Regions from separate parts of the Homo sapiens genome. Here region 1 is reported to be linked to region 2. The links are microRNA targets in miRTarBase. Many come from high-throughput screens and were not tested one by one. Region 2 holds a microRNA gene; the other region holds the end of a gene's coding sequence.

What was found. The annotated mature microRNA hsa-miR-5011-5p reads UAUAUAUACAGCCAUGCACUC and lies in region 2 at 1,987-2,007, shown strand. An mRNA with a match to its seed (bases 2 to 7 or 8) in the 3' UTR can be bound and repressed. Matches are read on the target gene's strand: a 7mer-m8 pairs with bases 2 to 8, a 7mer-A1 pairs with bases 2 to 7 and ends in A, and an 8mer does both.
Region 1: miRTarBase lists TSNARE1 as a target of hsa-miR-5011-5p. The part of its 3' UTR that is shown has no 7-base or 8-base seed match.

The regions. Positions count from the first base shown.
Region 1 is chr8:142,227,017-142,230,016 of GRCh38, reverse strand. TSNARE1 (t-SNARE domain containing 1) reads left to right here. Exons shown (of 14, transcript NM_145003.5): 13 at 438-544. The coding sequence ends at 533. Among named protein-coding and RNA genes, the nearest start is that of LINC00051, 30 kb to the right of the region's middle.
Region 2 is chr18:67,079,621-67,082,770 of GRCh38, forward strand. MIR5011 (microRNA 5011) reads left to right here and starts at 1,964; the gene lies at 1,964-2,066.

The DNA.
Region 1 (3,000 bases), not on the chromosome of region 2:
GCCAGGCCCCAGGCTATGTAGTTTCCAGGCATCACCTTAATTTTAAGGCTTTCAAATATCTCCATGGAGTCCATGGCATCATCTTATCCTTACAAAATAATTTAAGGTACCAAGAAGAGAAACAGCCGAGATCCCTCAGCTCAAGATGGACAAAGCATGAATCACACCCATGCCTGGCTGACTCTGGAGCTTAAGTTGAGTCTCCTGCCTCTCTCCCTTTGAACCTGGCTCCAGAGCCAGCCCAGAGCAGTTATTCAATAAACAGTCATGCTAGCTCAGGACAGAGCCCCTTGAAAGACACAGGTTCTCTCTGGACCCTGCCCCAGGGTGGACTCAGCCCCTGCATGCCACAGCCCAAAGTATGCACAAGCCAAATGCCCCTGAGGATGGGAGGTTGGAGGACCAGGATATGGAAACAACCTCTCTCTCTCTCCCAGCTCCAGAGACACAAGATCAAGTGCTGCTTCCTATCAGCTGGAGTCACTGCCCTGCTTGTCATCATCATCATCATCGCCACCTCTGTCCGAAAGTGATGCTACCCGTGGTGAGTACCCCACCTACCCGTACACCATCCATTCATCTGCACATCCACCATCCATTCATTCACCTATCCACCATCCATCTAACCATCCACCATCCATCCATCTATCCATCCACCCATTTATCCACCTGTCTACCGTCCATCTGTCCATCCATCTACCCATCCACCATCCATCCATCCATCTATCCATCTGCCATCCATCCATCCACCCATCCACCATCCATCCATTCATCCATCCATCATCCATCCATCCACCCACCATCCACCCTTCTATCCACCCATTCACCATCTGTCCATCCATCCACCCTCCATTCATCCATCCACCTTCCACCCATCTATCCACCCACCATCCATTTATCCATCCATCCTTCCATCCATCCATCCATTCATCCATCCATCCACCCACCCACCATTTATCCATCTATCCACTCATCCACCCATCCATCCATCCATCCATCAACTCATCCACCCATCTATCCACCATCTGTCCATCCATCTACCTTCCATTCATCACCCATCTATCCATCCATCCACAATCTGTTCACACATCCACCTAGCTACCATCCACCCATGCACCTGTACACCATCTGTTCGTCCATTATCCACCCATCCACCATTCATCCTTCCACCCATCCATTCATCTATCACCTATCCACCCATCATCCATCTTTCCATCCTTCCTTCCTTGCATCCATTCATTCTTCCTTCCTTCATCATCCTCTATGTGTTTGTTGAGCATCTCCTTTGTGTTAGGCATGGGATGGGCTCTAGGGACCCAGTGGTGCACATGGCAGAGGGGTGCCCTGTGTTCTTGCAACTCAGAGCCACTGGGGCAAGGCCACCCTGAAGCCTCTCTTTTCCTAGGCACTGACCTCCAGAAGTTTATGACTGGCAATTTCTCTGGGGCTAGCAGTCAGTGCACAGAACATGTTGGGCCATGTGGTGAGTGTGCATTCGGACCGGAGAGGAGAGGAATGAGGCGTCAGTGAGGAGAGCTCATCAGGAAGCTTCACCAGCTCCTGTAGGCAGGGAGGAATGGGTACTGAGACACATGGCTGGCACTGGAGCATGGCTGTCCCCAGGGCACAGGGCCCTGGGCTGCAGCCGGGCAGGGCTGGGACAGAACATGGGAAGGCCCTTAGTGTCCGTGGAGCCTCTGAAACATGTTAAGCAGGTATATCCATTACTGGTACTGCATGCCAAGTTAGCTTAAAGCTTAGTGGCTGAAACCAAATCAATGTTTGTTATCTCACAGTTTCTGTGAGTCAAGATTTGGAAGCGGCTTAGCTGGGTGGCTCTGGCTCTGGGTCTCTTGTGAGACTGTAGGTAGATGTTGGCCATTGCTGCATCATCTGAAGACTCAACTGCGGCTGAAGGATCCATTCAAAGCTGGATCTGCGTGTGGCTGACACTGGTGCTGGTTGCTGGTGGAATGGAGGCTCAGTGCCTCTCCATGTAAACTCCGGGAAGGCTGGCAAGGGAACAGGGTGGATGCCACCCTTGCTCAGTTCTGCAGTACTCGGCTGCTCACTCAAGGCTGCCCTACTTGAGTCTTACTGAGCACTGGAGACTCCCATGGTTGGTCTACTGTGTGCCAGGCCATGTGTTGTACATCCATTATCTAAATTTATCCTGTAGCCTCCTGAGGAATGCGGAGGCAGAGCCCAGCCTTCAGGGCCAGCATGGCCAGGACAGCATGGACTGAACAGGTCTTGGATTTGTGTGAAGACACACTGTGAACCTTCCAGATGTTGTTTCGCATCCCTGGGGTCTCCCCAGTCAGCTCGTCCCGCAACAGCAGGGCTTCTGTGTGTTCACATTAGGCAGGGCATGTGAAGACCCCAGGTGGCCTTACCTCATTTGGGTCAGCCGAGGTCTTGCTACTAAAATCCTGGATGGCAAAGAGAACTCCTGGTATCCAGAGCTGCTGGTGTTGGGGTTGTGGGCAGAATGGGGGGCCTGGCTGTCACTGGGGTTATGGGCAGGAATGGGGGCCTGGCTGCCATTGTGGTTGTGGGTGCAGTGGAGGTCCTGGCTGCCACTGGGGTTGTGGGCAGGTTGGGGCTCCTGGCTGTCACTGGGGCTATTGGCAGGATGGGGGTCCTGGCTGTCACTGGGGCTATGGGCAGGATGGGGGTCCTGGCTATCACTGGAGTTGTGGGCAGGAAGGGGGTCCTGGCTGTCACTGTTGTGTGGGTGCAGTGGAGGTCCTGGCTGTCACTGTGATTGTGGGCAGGATGTAGGGCCTGGCTGTCACTAGGGTTGTGGATGCAGTGGAGGTCCTCACTGTCACTGGGGTGTGGGCACAGTGGAGGTCCTGGCTGTCACTGGGGTGTGGGTGCAGTGGGGGTTCTGGCTGTCACTATTGTGTGGGTGCAGTGGGGTTCCTGGCTGTCACTGCTGTGTGGGTGCAGTGGGGGGCCTGGCTGTCACTGCTGTGTGGGTGCAGTGGGGGGCTT
Region 2 (3,150 bases):
AATTGGAAACATATCAATTTTTTCTAGCCAGTAGATACACCTTCGGACGTCTTGAACTTAAAATGAAAAATTAAAGAAAAACTACATTGCAAACTCTCCATTGTCTCTGGGGTTCTTAGCTCATTTTCTCTGATAAAACCATGGGCATGGACAATTAAGAAATTAAGATGTGACCAATGATACAATAACATCCTGAAAATTGTACAGTAAGCCATCTGACCCTTAGAAACTTGTGTGCAAGTGTGTTTATCTTTGTAGATAGATCTTAATTAAATTACCTGGATCAAAGCTTAACGTATACTAAATTGCCACTCATGAATTATTGTCACACATTCTTGAGACACGGCTTTACAAATTTATATCCTTAAAAACCTAGATTGGAGTGCCTTCTTCACACATCCATGTCTAATATGGATCATGTTGAGTATCTTTGGATATATTAATTTTGCAATTTAATTTCAGAAAAAAGTAGTATAACACTATTGTTTTGATTTATATTTTTCTAATTGCAAAAGTTTTCTAATTTTCATGTATGTATTGGTAATTTGCATTCTATTCCTATAGAATTGTATATATTTTATTTTGTAATTTAGTATTGCTTCTTAAAAATAAATATTGACATTGTATATCATTTCGTTACATATATTGTATGTTTTCCTAATCCATCATGCATCACATACTTTGTTTTCCATATAAATTGTCATATATGTTTATTAACTAACTCATAAATACTCATATCTGTCACCATTTTTTAATGCTTTCTTGTGTTTTGTCATGTTTAGGAACACTTTCCCCACAATTCACAATACTATCTGACAGGTGTTAGTATACCTGTCAGTGTTCTTGGTTGTAGATGACTGAAATCCATTCCAATTGACCTAAACCAGGTAATAGATTATATTGGATAAATCATATAATTATTGGAAGGCTAAAGAAACAGGCTCAGAACAGGGCAGCCCCATGGAAACCAGGTTCCAGAATGGCAGTAAAATCCCCCCACAGGAACAGTCTGATGAGATAGCGCTGCTGCCACCGTGGCACTTCCTCCCCTAGGGCCTGGGATATTTGATGGTTAATTTCTGTACCTCTGTGATGAATACATACTTGTTTGTTTCTTACTGTTTTTACTTCTTGCTTCTGTTTCAAATTTCTCCCCGAAGCCATCTGTTTTAGTTTCCTCAGGCTGCCATAACAGATTAGCATAAAACAAATGGCTAAAAGAACAGAAATGTATTCTCCCCCAGTTCTAGAAGCCAGTTCAAACTCGGGTGTCGGCAGGATTGCATTTAATCCAGGATTCTAGGAGACAATTCTTTCTTATCTCTTCCAGTTCCTGGTAGCTCCAGATGTTTCTTGGAGCTACACTTGGCTATTTAAAGTTAATTTTAATGTTTAATTAACTAAACATTAAAATAATTAAAAAGTCAGTCCCTCCATTGTGTTAGCTGTATTTGAAATACTCAAAGGCACATGTGGCTACAGGCTACTATATTGGACTATGCAAGGGTAGAACACGTGTTATCACACAATGGTCTCTTGCACAGTATTGCTCTAGAATATTCCCTGGACAGAAAAGTTTTACCTGTGGGGCATTAAACAACAAAGAGCCTTACAATTGCCTCTGACTTGTATAGTAAAGCCAACAGTTGTTTGTTGTCATCGTCAGAAAAGTTGATTCCATATTTGAATATGGTTTCACTGCTTGTCATGCTTGGCCAATGCCACAAACCATGGATTAACTGATGGCCTTCTCCACTCTCATGGCTATTCACCCCCAACAATAGAACTTATTTCTTTCATGTTGCCTCATATGGCAGAATCCCCTTCTATTTTAAGGCTGAATAATATTTCATGGTCATATACATATATACACACACACAGTCATGCATTGCTTAACAGGGAAATGTACCTTAAGGCAATTTTATCATTGTTTGAACATCATGGAGTGTCCTTATCCAAACCTAGATGGTATTGAGTGGATGCTGTTATATATACAGCCATGCACTCTGTAGTTTGGGTACACAGTGCATGGCTGTATATATAACACTATCCATTCATCTTTCAGCAGGACTTTTTTTTGGTCACAACCCTGCTAACCAAAACAGGATCTGGCCAGAGAGCATGAAGTGAAGAAACTGATAGGAAGTGGCAGATGTCAACAAAAGCAATCTCTAACTACTCATTGCAATTTAATTGTCATGGTGCTGGTGGTAGTGTCTTATGCTAATGAGCAATATGAGCAGCCTGGCAACACAACCCAGAAGTTACCACCTCTTTCCATGGCAACAACCTAAAAGTTACTGCCCCTGCCTTAGAAAGTTCTAAACAACCTGCCCCTCAATTTGCATTGGCTCACCCCTCAATTTGCATGCATTTGACCTGCCTTAGAAAGTTCTAAACAACCTGCCCCTCAATTTGCATTGGCTCACCCCTCAATTTGCATGCAATTGAATGTGGGTCTCGCTGAGTATAAATACCGTTGCCAAGAGACCATATGTTGCTGACTCTGATTGCACTGCCTATGATTTAGCCCTGCTCTGCAAGGAGCAGTACCATTCAATAAACGATTGCTAAGACTCCTAGCTCATCCTTGAATTTTTTCCGGGGTTAAGCAAGAAATCCTCCCTGGCTAAGCCCCAGTTTGGGGCCTTGCCTGTCCCACAGCAGTGTAACGTACTACACACTTAGACAATATGACATAGACTGTATCTCCTAGGCTACAACTCTGTATAGCTTATTATTATACTGAATGCTATAGGCAATTGTAACACAATAGCATCCGTACATCTAAACATACCAAAACAAAGAAAAATTACACTAAAAACACAGTATCGTAATCTTATTGGACCACATTTATATATGTGGTTTTTTGTTGACTGATGCAATACACAGTGCATGGCTGTATATGTAACACTATCAGTCACCATTCAATGAGCAATTAGGTCGTTTCTATACTTTATTGCTACTAACACTACAATGAAATACATATGGATAAACCTAGAGGGCATTAAGCTAAGTAACTCTTACTTCTAAGATTTCTACCTTAAAGAGTCATATTTATGGCCTTTACTTGAGGTAAACTTCAGAAGCCATTTGTTGTGGATTAGGTAACGTGTGGAGAAATTGCTTTGTTGGGTTTTTCTTCCTTTG